2 separate regions of the Homo sapiens genome follow, and region 1 is linked to region 2. A link means that fine-mapping ties the variant in region 2 to the expression of a gene that starts in the linked region. Tissue or cell type: whole blood. Region 2 holds a variant in brackets; the other region holds the start of a gene. All regions are shown on one strand. Distances are from middle to middle.

Region 1 (8,000 bases), 460 kb after region 2:
GGCTCACGCCTGTAATCCCAGCACTTTGGGAGGCCGAGGCGGGCAGATCAAGAGGTCAGGAGATCGAGACCATCATGGCTAACACGGTGAAACCCCGTCTCTACTAAAAAATACAAAAAATTACCCAGGCGTGGTGGTGGGCGCCTGTAGTCCCAGCTACTCGGGAGGCTGAGGCAGGCAAATGGTGTGAATCCGGGAGGCGGAGCTTGCAGTGAGCCGAGATCGCGCCACTGCACTCCAGCCTGGGTGACAGAGCGAGAGACTCTGTCTCAAAAAAAAAAAAAAAAAAAAAAAAGAGTATTGATAGTTTAAACCTACTACAATTTTGCATCTAGTTTCTCAAGTAGTTCTGTGGATTTAGAACCAACATTTGCTGAGGGGAAAGAATTACCAACATCAAAGTCCTAGGATGTGTCAGGGCACCAGAAGAGAAGTTTTGTCACTGTAAAATAACTCTCTTGGCAGAGCATGATAGAGACTGTAAACAGCAGGTTACTTCAATGGTTATGTGCGATTCAGTGAAGATCTCTACATTAATTGAAGCACAACTCAAGCAATTCAATGTAGCTCTGATATGCTGGAGAACAATCTAGCAGTTAGCTATCAGCGGTGGTGTGGTTCCTTTTAAGCAAAGGTAGCTTGTAGTCTTCAGACTTGTGACCTGTGCAGCCTCCACATTCAAGTGAGGTTAAAGGGACTGCTGTTGGAACATGGATCACTCCAGGCCTATCTGTACACATGGACCCCTCTTCTGTTGGCTTCCACTGCAACAAAAAGCCAATAAACACTAAATCAACATCTGGCAACTGTTAAAAGAGGAATGATGCAACAGCAGGGCAGAAAGATAAGAAAGCTCAAACTTTCCTGGCATAGGCACAAAGTTCGTTGCTTAATGTAGTTATGAGATAATAAATATCTATGAAAAACTATTTGTCAGTTTATTTAAGAGAGACGTGATAATAAGAAACCCTTTAATTCTGCTTAATAAAAGCAACTGATATTTATTTGGGGGCAGAAACTATATAAAGTCTTTATATAAGCTGTTTCGTTTAATCCTCTCAACAGTCTCATGGCTAGGTATTATTATCCCCACTTTACAATGAAAAAGAATGGTGGCAAAATAATTTAATTTTTTAAATATTTCACAGGTAATAAGAGATGAAGCTGGAATCTGAAAACCAGAAAGTCTAACTTCTGAGACCATGTTCTTAGTATTGTATATGCTTACATAGAGAGCCTTGCTGTTTCCCTACAGAATTTAGCTGTTTCCTTTCCTTTATTGTTTCATCCCCAGAAAACTATCTTAGTAACCTCTTTAAAAGTAAAGTAGATGGCTGTTAACTTAAAATACTATATATGACACCATGTAATCTTTTTTTTTCTTTTTGAGATGGAGTTTTACTCTTGTTGCCCAGGCTGGAGTGCAATGGCGTGATCTCAGCTTACTGCAACCTCCACCTCCCAAGTTCAAGCAATTCTCCTGCCTCAGCCTCCCAAGTAGCTGGTATTACAGGCGTCCACCACCACACCCAGCTAATTTTTTTGTACTTTTAGTAGAGATGGGGTTTCAACATGTTGGCCAGGCTGGTCTCGAACTCCTGACCTCAGGTGATCCACGCACCTCAGCTTCCCGAAGTGCTGAGATTACAGGCATGAGCCACTGTGCCTGGCTGACACCATGCAATCTTAAAAGCTGAATGACTATTTTTGAAATCCTATGGATAATCTGGCAAAAATAATTGAGCTTATCCTTTCGTATAGTGGATTGATTAGAAATGAAGTTCTACTCAAGACCCATTAATGTAGGACCATCAAGTTAAACTTTTTTTCTTTTCCACTCTGAAAAAATACAACAGATAATGTTTGCTTCTAAATAAAATTGCAGAACCACTAGCAATTCATTCTCAGTTGGATCTCCAGAGCTGACCATACAAACTTCTACTTGTTTCTCCCATTCCTCTTAGTTGTCAATCCTTTCCCATTACTTTCCCATTTCTCTCAGTTGCAAATCCAAACCATTTTCACATTTCAAGACTTAATTCCTATTCCCCCATCTTTCAAACTTGTCTCCTATGTTACTGTGGAAACTGAGGCCATCAGACTTGAATTCTATGAACTCTCTCCTGCCAGATCTACAAATTTATCCCCATGTTCACCCATCCTTCTAACATTCTCTTAGAAGATAAGGTCTCATCTCCTTCTGGCCCAAATCAAATTCTCTACCTGTGTTTTTGGTTCTGTCCTCTCCCATCTCTGCAAGGACCTTGAACCATTAATTTTCCTTTCTGCCTCTTGTATTGTGTTAGATTTGCCAAATATATTGCTCCCATACCCACAATTTCTTATGAGGGGAGGTGATGTTCCCATGATCTCTGCAAAGGAATAGCCATGTTTCGCACTATGCAAACTTCTCTGTACTACATGATTGGACCAAGTGGGCACCTATGTCAAAGGGCATCCAATTTACAGAGTGCCCAGATAATTCAGACATGGTCTGGCATGAAATGAGGAGCACGGCCTGTGACCTTTTTAAATTTTTTCAAAGGCTGCTTAGTGCTCTAAGAACAAGATATCCATTTTAAGTGAAATGAGTGGATTTTTATTATTAGAAAAGTTATGAAATGATCTTTGATGCATGTGTTGCCTGTGAAAGTCATTCACTTTAATGTTCAGTGGGAGTAAGTGTAATCCATGTAATTGCTAGAAAGCTAGGCATCTTAGCACAGGAATAATCACACTGAACATTAGTAATGATAAAAATATCATTTATAGCGGCCTATCATATGGATTTTAAATACATCATCTCTGTCATGATAATCCCATGATATAGGTTCTAATATTACCAATTTTCAGATAAAAAAAAAAAACTAAGGCCCAGAGAACTTGGGTCACTCAATTAATAAGCAGCAGAGCTAATTAGAGTCTGGGTCCAAAGCTTAAGCACTCTTCGTCTTCTTTATATTTGGCTTTTTCCTAGCCAAAAACATGGAGGCATTGCTTACTTTTACTTTATCATTGTTATCTTGGCATAACATCAAAATAATTAGGAGCTGATATACCTAAGTGTATAAAACAGGATAAAATTAATTGATGAGGAATTAGATAAGGAAAATAAAATCAAACTAGGGGCAAATTTCATGTATAAAAATGTGTACTGTGCCATACATTTTGTAAGTGGAGTCTCTAAAGATTGCTTCATAAGGAAGAAGTGAATAATGACTTTGGGAACACTTGGTAACCCCTAGGACTCAAAAGATTGGGTGTGAGAAGTTATTAGTAAGCATATGTATTAGGCAAAATACAGTGAGATGAACCTGGAACAAATGCTCGCTGAATGCACTTAGAAATATTATCAGGCGACTCAGCCTATAGAGCATACGGGTTAGAATGTCTATTTTAAGAAGGAGCGGATATTTACTAAATGCTAATTTGAGCAAAGTTCTACAAAAATATCACTGACCATGAATATTCAGGCATTGACATGCTACAAAATAGCATATCGAAAAGAACATCTGTTGCCCTAAAGATGGTTTCCTGCACAGAACGTCTCCAAATTTTCAGCATTCATAGGCTGGCCCCGTTTCTTCTTGGTTAACATTTAGAGGCACGCCTAAACTTAGAGGAACACCTCTCTAAACCAAGGAGACACTTAAAGAGAAAAGGAGTAAAGATGGTGATGGGCTTATAAAGAGCAATGTAATAGTGTCTTTGAAGCAAAAGCTAACTTAATGAAAACGTGGTCCCAATTTCCTTAAATCTGGATCACCGTACGACTTCTGTAATACTTATTATTTCCCCAGCTGGCAAATAAACTGGAGTTCAAGTGGGAAAAAACAAGGTATTGTTCAGACTTATGATTTTTGGGGTCAAAGATTCTGAGCAATAACCTATTAAAAAACCCAGCTTTTGATTTGAGTATGTAAGTAAGTACATGGGAGGAACGTATGGATCTGGAGTGGTGGTAAATACAGAGCATGTTTGCTTCGCAAAGCAGATTAGCTCATACTTAATAATAGAGTAAATCTGTTGGGCCATGACTCAATGCACCCAAATTCTCTAGATTGCTATGTCTCTACTCGCTAAGCCTTCGGGAACAACAAGCACAGAACTTTTAGGGTGCTGTCTCACTGATGTCGGCGTTAGCTCTGGTAGTCCAGGTCAAGATTATACCAAAGATTCAGGACTTAAATTCCTGCAGAATGTAAGCCCCTTTCCAAGTTCTCTGCTTTACTGTATCCTGTTTATTTTCAAACTCAAATGGAAAAAAACGAAACAAAAACCTTGGGCTTCAAGAGGCATCCTGCCGCAAGGCCCAGCGATGTGAATTTTCAACAACCGTCTCAGGCAGATTTCATGCTGATGGTTCAGGCACTAAACTTTGAAAAACACAGTATCACAGAGTAGGGATGGTGATGTAAGAGTCATCTGTAAAAGCTGTGCTGTTTTGGCAGCCTGGGAGGCTAAGGTTTAGTCTAGGCGACTAAGGTTTAGTCCGGGCTGTATTCACACCCAAAACAACTAAAAAAGCGGAGGAGTCTTTGAGTCAATCCCTGAAGCTCCGGCTAAGAGGAAACTCGCCCACGCTCCAGGGCAGCGACGCCGGCTCCACCTCAGCCACGGCTGTCTCAAGCTTCTCGGGGTTTTCCGCCGGCTCCACCCGAGCCACAAGTCTACAGGACTCCTCGGAGCTTTCCGCCGGGACGCAAGACCCACCGCCAGAGGTTGGTACCTCCTAGAGAACAGCGAAGCGCATCCCGAGGGCCGCCGGCCGGAAGCGCCCTCCAGACCCGCCCCCTGCCCTCCGGAGCCGGAAGCTGGGCATCTGCAGCTGGCTCGGCGCACTCCACTGACCGTCCCGACGATGCTACGCGCGCCCGGCTGCCTCCTCCGGACCTCCGTAGCGCCTGCCGCGGCCCTGGCTGCGGCGCTGCTCTCGTCGCTTGCGCGCTGCTCTCTTCTAGAGCCGAGGGACCCGGTGGCCTCGTCGCTCAGCCCCTATTTCGGCACCAAGACTCGCTACGAGGATGTCAACCCCGTGCTATTGTCGGGCCCCGAGGCTCCGTGGCGGGACCCTGAGCTGCTGGAGGGGACCTGCACCCCGGTGCAGCTGGTCGCCCTCATTCGCCACGGCACCCGCTACCCCACGGTCAAACAGATCCGCAAGCTGAGGCAGCTGCACGGGTTGCTGCAGGCCCGCGGGTCCAGGGATGGCGGGGCTAGTAGTACCGGCAGCCGCGACCTGGGTGCAGCGCTGGCCGACTGGCCTTTGTGGTACGCGGACTGGATGGACGGGCAGCTAGTAGAGAAGGGACGGCAGGATATGCGACAGCTGGCGCTGCGTCTGGCCTCGCTCTTCCCGGCCCTTTTCAGCCGTGAGAACTACGGCCGCCTGCGGCTCATCACCAGTTCCAAGCACCGCTGCATGGATAGCAGCGCCGCCTTCCTGCAGGGGCTGTGGCAGCACTACCACCCTGGCTTGCCGCCGCCGGACGTCGCAGGTGACCCCCCGGGCGGCCCGTGTGCTGTCCCGGTCCTCCCACCCGCCCTGGATGCTCTCCCGCCTCCCCCAGACCCTGGGCTTTTCCGATGCCCCCCAGTTCTCTTTCCTCTTTTCCCAAGCCATCATCCCTCGGGCTACGTCCTCCCTGTCGAGGGATATTACAGACTTGGCTATCTCTTTTTCCCCTTACACGTATGTTCATTTATTAATTCATCAGGTGTAAATTCAGCACCTTGTACTCGCTGCCTGCTTTAGTAGAGTTGGGGATCCAACAGGAAAGGGGACAGACGAGGTCTCCCGCAATTTTTGCGCTCCCGTTCCCAAACTGAATTGCCCCTTCGAGCGCCAACCCATCCCTTCCCCCTTCCCTGGCGTCTAGTTTCACAATTGGGCGCACGTTTTAAAAAACAGAATCTAGAATTTTCTTCCTCGGGCTTTGCTTCCGATACTAGTTTTTCCTTCTTTCTTTTTTTTTTTTTTTAAACTCATCATCTTTTTCAGATGACAGTTTTAGACCTACACCCTGTTTTAGGAACCTGATCTCAAGCCTTTGTGTCCTCCTTTTTTCTTCTGTTTTGTTCATGTTTTTACTGTAGCGTTCCCATCGTTGTAGCTGTGGTCCGTGGTCACAAGCAGTAACAACTCATTTATTCCATTAATTACACTTTTTCGAAATTTGAGAAATCATCTAGTAAGGCCCCGTTATTTCACAGGTGAAGAACCCGAGCCCAAGAGTATGCCTTCTTAATTGTCTTTCTCTAAGGTCTAGTATCCAAGTCTTCTGTTTTCCTAGAATGGTTCTTTTTCTCTTAGAAAATGTTGTAATAGTTACAAATAATAATGATAGCATACACCTCATGCCTATTGTATGCCAGGTATGCCTCACATTTATTTTACAAAATCCTTACAACCACAATCTGGAGTTGATAGTATTTTCCCCTTATCTCAAAGATGAGGAAATTGATACACGAACACATTAAATAATTTGCCCATTTTCATACAGCTAGCTGTGGACCCAGGAAATCTGATTCAGAGCTTGCTTTCTTAGCCATTATGCTATACTGCCTCCATTTGTCCAATAACATACCTAATAAGAATAAAAACATGTAACATTTTTGTACCACAGAGATGAGCAAGCATTAATAGTTTCTTGATCACTTTTAAGGCCAGAATTGAAGTGAGGATTATTGTTTAGCTTCAAAGCCCAAGTGAAAAATTAGAAGTAGGCTGGTTTGTAATTTCTTCTGTAGCTGTTGAACAGTGAAACCATCTGTAAGGGATTTCTCCACTGATTCTGTGTCATGTTATTGTGGGTAATTCAGTTAGCTGACTTGTGTCTAATTACTTGTTGAACTGTGTTTTTTTTTAAATATATACTTTTTCCATTAGCATGAGTGAAAATTCCTCATAAATCTGTTAAATTAACAGAATGGTGAAAGCAGAACATATTTTAATATAACACAATATCTATAGCGACTTCCTGGAACAAGTGAATTTTTGTTCTCAGATGGCATTGCGAAGACTGGCATTTGACTCTCAGTACAGAGCCAGGGATGAAAATACTACAGTTCAGAATAAGCCCACTCCTGACCGTTTTCAGTGTCAGATAGCAAACCCTTTGCCTAGCCACTTTATTATTCTCTATAGACAATAGTTTTGCCTATTATGTACATCTGGTCTTTTGAGGGAGTCTGCTGAATTAGATTTGTAGTTTTGTAGAAACAGAACAATGCCTTTGTTTTTGTTTAAAGACTAGCAATAATTAGATAGTAACAAGGATAAAATACCCAGATGCACTTGGGAAATTATATTTTAGTGTACACAGAAAAAAGGTGACAAAGTTCGCTTATTTTCCTAGTCAAGATATTTTCTTAAGAATTGCAATCCAGTTGACAAAGTGGGCAGAATTATCCATTTCAAGAGAAACAAACATACATACTGATTTTTTTTGCATACACATCCAAAGCCCAGATAAAACTATATTCAATTTTCTCATATTTTATGTACAAAAATGATATACTTGGTGTTCTTTTCGTGGTAAATTGTTGGAGAAATGATTGAAAAATGTGTGTTTTGAATATGACTGAAAAAAACGTAAAGGGCACACCAGTAGTTGAAGCATGATTATGAATGCTTCTCCAATACATATTTGTTGCCCAATTGGGGGCATAATGTAATTTATTAAATTTTATATAGAAAGTTATCTGGGGCTTCAGTTAAAAGATAAACCAATTCACAGGCCCAGCACAGTGAAGCACAGGAGACCCAAAACATCAGTGCGTTTTGTGCTGCTGTCAGTAGTTTTTGTCCAAAGCAGAATCTTTGTAAAGTAATACAGAGTTGGGAAGGTTAATTGAGAAAATAAAATACTCTGTTTAGACTTTGGCTTAGAGTGAAAAAATAGATTCCATATGTTGAATTCTCTCTCACCTTGTAAGTAGAAACTTTGCTGATTTTTAGTTTGCTTTCTAAAGTTTTCCGTGCCTGACAGAAACAGTAC
Region 2 (8,260 bases):
TTAGTGTTGTAAATATCCATCTTAAAACTGCTTTGGTTGTGTCCCAGAGATTCTGGTATGTTGTATCTTTTTTTCTCATTCATTTCAAAGAACTTCTTAATTTTGGCCTTAAGTTAATTATTTACCCAGAAGTCATTTAGGAGCAGGTTATTCAGTTTCCATGTAATTGTATGATTTTGAGTGAATTTCTTAGTCTTGATTTCTAATTTGATTTCACTATGGGCTGAGAGGTTGGTTGTTATGATTTGAGTTCTTCTGCATTTGCTGAGGAGTATTTTGTGTATGATTCTGTGACTGATTTTGGAGTATGTGTCATGTGGTGATGAGAATGTATATTCTGTTATTTTTGTGAGGAGAGTTCTGTAGATGTCTATCAAGTCCATTTGATCCAGTGCTGAGTTCAAGTCCCGAATATCATTGTTAATTTTCTGCCCCAGTGATGTATCTATTACTGTCAGTGAGATGTTAAAATCTCCCACTACTATTGTGTGGGAGTCTAAGTCTCTTTGAAGGTCTCTAAGAACTTGCTTTATGAATCTGGGTGCTCCTGTTTTGGATGCATAAATACTAATACTTAGAATAGTTAAGTTTTCTTGTTCAATTGAACACTTTACCATTATGTAATGCCCTTCTTTGTGTTTTTTGGTCTTTGTTGGTTTGTAAAGTTTGTTTTGTCTGAAATTAGGATTGCAGCCCCTGATTTTTTTCTGTTTTCCATTTGCTTGGTAGATTTTTCTCCATCCCTTTATTTTGATCCAGTGGGTGTCATAGCATGTGAGATGAGTCTCTTGAAGATGGCATACCAATGAGTCTTAATTCTTTATCCAGATTGCCATGGTGTGCCTTTTAATTGGGGCATTTAGCCCATTTACATTCAAGGTTAGTATTGATATGTGTGGATTTGATCTTGTCATCCTGATGTTAGCTGGTTATTACGCAGTCTTGTTTGTGTGGTTGCTTTATGCTGTCACTGCTCTGCATACTTCAGGATGTTTTTGTAGTGGCTGGTATGGTCTTTCCCTTTCACATTTAGTGCTTCCTTCAGGAGCTTTTGGGCAGATCTTGTCATAACAAATTCTCTCAGCATTTGCTTGTCTGAAAAGGATCTTATTCCTCCTTCACTTATGGAGCTTAATTTGGCTGGATATGAAATTCTCAGTTGGAATTTCTTTTTATTAAGAATGTTGAAGATAGGCTGCCTATCTCTCCTGGCTTGTTGGGGTTCTACTGAGAGGTCCACTGTTAGCCTGATGGGGTCCTTTTGTAGGTGACCTGACCTTTCTCTCTAGCTGCCTTTAACTTTTTTTTTTCATTTTGACCTCAGAGAATCTAATGAGTATGTGTCTTGGGGATGATCTTCTTGTGAAGTTTCTTACTAGGGTTCTCTGCATTTCCTGAATTTGAATGTCGGTCTCTCTAGCTAGGTCGGGGAAGTTCTCATAAATGATATCCTGGAATACACTTCCCAAGTTGCTTATACTCTCTCTATCTCTTTCAGGGACACCAGTGAGTCGTAGATCTGGTCTCTTTACATAATCCCACATTTCTCAGAGGTTTTGTTTCTTCCTTTTAATTTTTTTTTCTTCATTCTTGTCTGCGTGTCTTCTTTCAGAAAGCCAGTCTTCAGCCCCTGAGATACTTTCTTCCACTTGGTCTATTCTGCTATTAATGTAATTCTTGTAGTGTGTTTTTTAGCTCTATCAAGTTGGCTACATCCTTTTTTGTACTGGCTATTTTTTCTGTTGGCTCTTGCATTGTTTTATCCTGATTCTTAGCTTCCTTAGATTGGCTTTCAACATACTCCTGCATATCGAAGATCTTCATCCCAATCCATATTCTGAATTCTATTTCTGTCATTTCAGCCATCTCAGCCTGGTTCAAACCCCTTGCTGGAGAGGTGGTGCAGCCGTTTGGAGGAAAGAAGGCACTCTGGTTTTTTGAGTTGTGAGAGTTCTTGCACTGGTTCTTTTTTATCTTTGCAGGGTTATTTTCCTTCAATCTTTGAAGCTGCTGACCTTTGGATGGGTTTTTTTCCTTTTATCCTATTTGACGACCTTGAGGGTTTCACTGTGGTATAAGGTGGATTCAGTCAACTGGCTTCATTTCTGGAAGAGTTTAGAGGACCAACACTGAGCTCCCAACTCCTGGACTGTGTGCTGTAACCCTGGAGGACTTGTATCGAGCCCCAACTTTGTTCTGTCTCCTCAAGGATAAGAATCCACTGCACTGGGTGAGCCAAGATGCTCTCAGACTGCTGGTCACTACACTCTAACGGGTGATGTCAGCCAAAGCTTTTAGTAGTGCAGAGACAGTGGAATCCATCCCCATTTGCATGTGCCAGCGGCAGTGGCAGCAGCAGCATGGCTGCAGTAGGGTGCTAGTGGGTGCTGGCATGCCTGCCTCTGTGGCAGCATTTACCACAGCAGCAAAGGGAACACAGCTGGCAGGGTGGGGGCCCCTTCTGGTGTCTGTGCATGTGGTTGCACCAGTAGTGGTGTTGACATGGCAGCAGGGTGCTGGAGAGCGCTCAGGGTAGGGAAGAGTCTGCTGTTCTCTGTGCCTAGTTTCACTTGGAGCAGTGCTGGCAAATGGGTGGGGCACTGGCAGGGGAGGGGTTGGGGCTGGCTGGCTCTGTGCCCACCAAGGCTCTGACTACAGTGGTGGTCAGAAGGGAGAGTGGAGCAGACTGCACTCCTGCTGCAGTACTTGCAGGGCAGGGTGTACACATACATGCAGGCTGGCAGGACAAGATAAGCAGAAGCTGCCCATGCACACACATGTTGGCAAAGCCATGTGCGGTGTTACCGTGGGCCTTGGGGAAGATGCAGTGTAGAAGGAGTGTGTGCACTGGTGTGTGGCCCTGGGAGCTGCCCCGGGGGAGCTCTTCGCATTTCAGGCATGGTCCACCAGCACTGGAGCTATGATGTGGGCCCCTAGGGTGCTCAAGGCTTCCCTGCAATCAGGCATGGCCAGGCTGGACCCTCAGAGAGGCCAGCGAACCAAGGAGTGCTCAGGTAGGACCAGCCCTGCCTGATGAGTAAGACTGCATTGCGAAGTTCAGGCCCAGTGGTTCCCTTAGGGTGAAAGTCTCCTATGGGAGCAAGTTGAGTCTAGGGGTGTGGCTGTCCTTGGCTGTGCTCCACTACAGCTGCTCTCACACCAAACCCTCTGGGTTCATCAGCTGGCTGCTGCCCTGGCTGCTTCTCCAAGCTTCTCTCCCTTGCAACTCTACTGTCCATGATGCTCAAA[G/C]GATCTCCTGCCAGGATTCCAGAGGCTGGACATAAGAAGCATTGCTTCTTGCAAGTTCAACTCACCCTTTCCCCCAGTCATTGGGGGCCAGGAATGAGTTCCAGGGTGCAGTAGCCCCATGCAGGCCTCCCAGCTTACTACCCCTTTAGCCTAGCTTCTGTGTCTTCCCTCCATCTACTCTCAGTGCCTTCCCTCTGAAGATCCATTAGTAGTGCACCAGTCAAATCAGTCCCTCGGTGGCAGCTGTTGCACCTGGCTGCATCTAGTTGGCCATCTTAACATGTATATTTCCATAACTAATTTTTGTGTGTTGATTTTGTACCCTGCAATTTTGCTGAATTAAAATTAGCTCTAGTAGGTTTATTTGTTTGTTTGCTTTTTGGCTCTGTCACCCAGGCTGGAGTACAGTGGTGCAATCTTTGGCTCACTATAACCTCCACCTCCTGGCTTAAGTGATCTTCCCACCTCAGCCTTCTGAGTAGCTGGGACTACAGGTGTGAGCCACCACACCTTGCTAGTTTTTGTACTTTTTGTAGAGATGGGGTTTTGCCATGTTGCCCAGGCTGGTCTTGAACTCTTGGGCTCAAGCAACCTGCCTGCATTAACATCCCAAAGTGTTGGGATTACAGGTGTGAGCCACCATGCCTGGCCAGTAGGTTTATGTATGGGTATATGTGTGTGTATGTATTCTCTTTTCTTGTTATAGGTCTATTGAGATTTTCTATTTCTTCTTAAGTCATATTTGGTAATTTGTGTGTTTCTAGGAATCTACATTTTATCTAGATGTCTAATTTTTGGAATATAATTTTTCATAGTATTGTCTTAAAAATCTTTAAAATTTCTGTAAGATCAGTAATAATGTCACCATTTTCTTTCTGATTTTAGTTATTTACTATTCTCTTTTTTTTTCTGAGTCAGTCTAACTAAAGGTTCATCAAATTTGTTTTTTTTTCCCATGAACCAACTTTTTGTTTTGACAATTATTTTTCCTCTATTCTCTATTTCATTCTGCTTTAATCTCTAGTATTTCCTTCCTTCAGCTGGCTGTAGGTTTAGTTAGCTCTTCTTTTACACCTTAGGTCAAGCTTGTCCAACATGCAGCCCAGGATAACTTTGAATGCAGCCCAACACAAATTCATAAACTTTACAAATAACAGAAAACAGTATGAGATTTTCTTGAGGTTTTTTTTTTTTTTTTTTTTTAGTTCATCACCTATTGTTAGGGTTAGTGCATTTTATGTGTGGCCCCGTAGCAGGACGAGCTGCAGACAAAACTACTCAGACACTGAGTTAAAGAAGGAAGGGGTTTATTCGGCTGGGGGCATCAGCAAGACTCCTGTCTCAAGAGCGAAGCTCCTTAAGTGAGCAATTCCTGTCCCTTTTAAGGGCTCACATCTCTAAGGGGGTGCGCATGAGAGGGTCGTGATCGATTGAGCAAGAAGCAGGTGTGTGACTGGGGGCTGCATGCCCTGGCAATTAAGAACAAAACAGGACAGGGATTTTCACAGTGCTTTTCTATACAATGTCTGTAATCTATAGATAACATAACCGATTAGGTCAGGGGTCGATCTTTAACTACCAGGCCCAGGGTGTGGCGCTGGGCTGTCTGCTTGTGGATTTCATTTCTGCCTTTTAGTTTTTTCTCTTTCTTTCTTTGGAGGCAGAAACTGGGCATAAGACAATATGAGGGGTGGTCTCCTCCCTTAGCCCAAGACAATTATTCTTCCAATGTGGCCAGGGAAACCAAAAGGTTAAATACCCCTTAGGTGTAAAGTTAGGTTGTTAATTTGAAATCGTTCCTTTTATCTTTTCTTTTTTTTTTTTTTTTTGAGATGGAGTCTTGCTCTGTCACTAGGTTTGAGTACAGTGTGCGATCTTGGCTCACTGCAACCTCTGTCCCCCGGGTTCAAGTGATTCCCTTGCCTCAGCCTCCTGAGTAGCTGGGAATACAGGTGCGCACCACCATGCCCAGCTAATTTTTTGTATTTTAGTAGAGACGGGGTTTCACCATATTGGCCAGGATGGTCTCGATCTCCTGAACTCATGACCCACCCACCTCGGCCTCCCAAAGTGTCAGGATTATAGGTGTAAACCACCGTGCCCGGTCTTTTTTTTTTTTTTTAATAAAATAAATATGAAACACTTCACGAATTTGCATGTCATCCTTGCACAGGGGCCAGGCTAATCTCTGTATTGTTCCAATTTTAGTGTATGTGCTGATGAAGCAAGCATGAGATTGTCCTTTTTTAATGAAAGTATTTATTATTATTATTATTTTTTGAGATGGAGTCTCGCTCTGTCGCCCAGGCTGGAGTGCAATGGCATGATCTCGGCTCACTGCCAGCTCTGCCTCCTGGGTTCACGCCATTCTCCTGCCTCAGCCTCCGGAGTAACTGGGACTACAGGCGCCCGCCACTGCACCTGGCCAATTTTTTTTTTTTGTATTTTTAGTAGAGATGGGATTTCACTGTGCTAGCCAGGATGGTCGCGATCCACCCGCCTCGGCCTCCCAAAGTGCTGGGATTACAGGCATGAGCCACCGTGACCGTCTGATGTAAGTATTTCCAGCTATAAGTTTCACTGAGTACCCCTGTCACACCATCTCATAAATTTTGGTATCTTGCATTTTATTTTAATTCATCTGAAAGTATTTCAATTTCTCTAGTCATTTCTTCTTTGAGCCACTGGTTAAGAATGTTGTTTAACTTTCACTTACTTGCAAATTCTCCAGGTTTTCCTGTTATTGACTTCTAGCTTCATTACACTTTTGTTGGAAAAGACACTTTGCATAATTTTTTTTTTTTTGAGACAGAGTCTCAGTCTGTTGCTCAAGGTGGAGTGCAGTGGTGTGATCTCGGCTCATTGCAACCTCTGCCTCCCAGATTCAAGCAATTCTCCTAGCTCAACCTTCCAAGTAGCTGGGATTACAGGTGCCTGCCTCCACTCCCAGCTAATTTTTTGTATTTTTTATTAGAGTTGGGGTTTTGCCATGCTGGCCAGGCTGGTTTCGAACCCCTGACCACAGGTCATCCACCCACCTTGGCCTCCCAAAGTGCTGGGATTACAGGCATGAGCCACCAAGCCTGGCCTGTTTTTTTTTTTTTTTTTTTTTTTTAAGACAAGTCCCGCTCTGTCCTGCAGGCTGGAGTGTAGTGGTATGATCTCAGGTCACTGCAGCCTCTGCCTTCCAGGCTCAAGCCATCCTCCTGCCTGAGCCTCCTGAGTAGCTGGGGCTACAGGCGTTCACCACCACTACAGCCGGCTAATTTTTTTATTTTTTATTTTGGTAGAGACAGGGTTTCACCATGTTGCCCAGGCTGGTCTTGAACTCCTGGGCTCAAGTGATCCGCCTGTCTCAGCCTCACAAAGTGCTGGGATTACAGCTGTGAGCCACCACACCTGGCCCTTTGTATAATTTTGACCTTTTAAAATTTATTGAGAATTGTTTTGTGGCCTAACATATGATTTATCATGGGGAATGTTCCATGTGCACTTGAGAGGAATATATATTCTGCTCTTGTTAGATGGATATCTTTCCATATGTCTGTTAGGTCTATTTGGTTTAGTGTGTTGTTCAATTCCTCTAGTTCCTTACTGATTTTGTCTAGATGTTCTATTTACTATTGAAGGTGGGGTATTGACTGGACACAGTAGGTCAGGCCTGTAATCCCAGCACTTTGGGAGGCTGAGGTGGGCGAATTGCTTGAGCTTGGGCATTTGAGACCAGCCTGGGCAACATGATGAAACCCCATCTCCACAAAAAATACACAGATTGGCCGGGTGTGGTGGCGTGTGCCTATAGTTCCAGCTACTGGGGAGGCTGAGGTGGGAGAATCGCTTGAGTCTGGGAGGCAGAGGTCGCAGTGAGCTGTGATAGAGTCACTGCACTCCAGCCTGTGTTGAAGTCTCTGTTATTGTAAAACTATTTCTTCCTTCAATTTTGTTAGACTGTGCATTTTAGAGCCCTTTTTTTTTCTTTTTCAGTTCATACGTATTTATAATTGTTACATCTTCTTGTGATTTGACTCTCTTACCAACATACGATGTCTTTCTGTAACATTTTTTGGCTTAAAATCTATTTTGTCTGGTATTAGTATAGCCACCCCAGCTCTCTTTTGGTTACTATTTGCATGGATTATCTCTTTCCGTCTTTTCATTTTGAAACAATTTGTGTCTTGGGTCTACAGTGAGTATTTTGTAAGTTGCATATTTGGATTGTGTATTACATCATTTAAAAAAAATCCATTCTGCCGATCTTTCCATTGGTCAGATTATTTACATTTAAAGTGATTACTGAAACAAAAAAGTTAATTGACCGGCATGGTGGCTCCCGCCTGGAGGTGAGGCTGCAGTGAGCCATGATCGCACCACTGCTCTTCAGCCTGGGGGACAGAGAGATTGACTCAAAAACAAAAAACAAAAACTTACTTATGGTTGGACTCAGGCCTGTAATCCTATCACTTTGGGATGCTGAGGTGGGCAGATTGCTTGAGCCCAGGCGTTTGAGACCAGTCTGGGCAACATAGCAAGACTCCTGTCTCTACAAAAAATAGAAAAATAAGCTGGGCATGGTGGTGCACACCTGTGGTTCCAGCTACTCAGGAGGCTGAGGTGGGAGGATCAGCTGAGCCTGCGGAGGTCAAGGTTGTAGTGAGCCGTGATTGTGCCACTGCACTCCAGCCTGGGCAACAGAGCTAGACCCCGTCTCAAAAAAACCCCAAACAGGCCGGGTGCAGTGGCTCATGCCTGTGCCTGGCACTTTGGGAGGCCGAGGCAGGTGGGCCACTTGAGGCCAGGAGCTCGAGAGTAGCCTGGCCAATGTAGTGAAACCCTGTCTCTACTAAAAATACAAAAAATTACCTGGCTGTGGTGGTGGGCGCCTGCAATCCCAGCTACTCAGGAGGCTGAGTATCACTTGAACTTGGGAGGCAAAGGCTGCAGTGAGCTGAGAATGAAACACTGCACTCCAGCCTGAGTGACAGAGCAAGACTCTGTCTCAGACAAACCCCAA

What was found. PIP is the estimated chance that this variant, and not a neighbour inherited with it, causes the effect.
Region 1: MINPP1 starts here. The variant in region 2 is fine-mapped to the expression of MINPP1 in whole blood (TOPMed, PIP 0.93).

Annotation. Positions count from the first base shown.
Region 1 is chr10:87,500,055-87,508,054 of GRCh38, forward strand. It overlaps MINPP1 (multiple inositol-polyphosphate phosphatase 1), which reads left to right and starts at 4,839. Exons shown (of 5, transcript NM_004897.5): 1 at 4,839-5,498. The coding sequence starts at 4,862. It overlaps MIR4678 (microRNA 4678), which reads left to right and starts at 3,827; the gene lies at 3,827-3,900. It overlaps LOC112268064 (a long non-coding RNA gene), which reads right to left and starts at 4,780. Exons shown (of 2, transcript XR_002957094.2): 1 at 4,281-4,780; 2 at 1-764. RefSeq lists a cis regulatory region at 564-948 and enhancers at 4,809-4,898, 5,059-5,118.
Region 2 is chr10:87,035,861-87,044,120 of GRCh38, forward strand. It overlaps the pseudogene RNU6-529P. Among named protein-coding and RNA genes, the nearest start is that of FAM25A, 20 kb to the left of the region's middle. The variant G/C (reference allele first, on the strand shown) is at 3,250.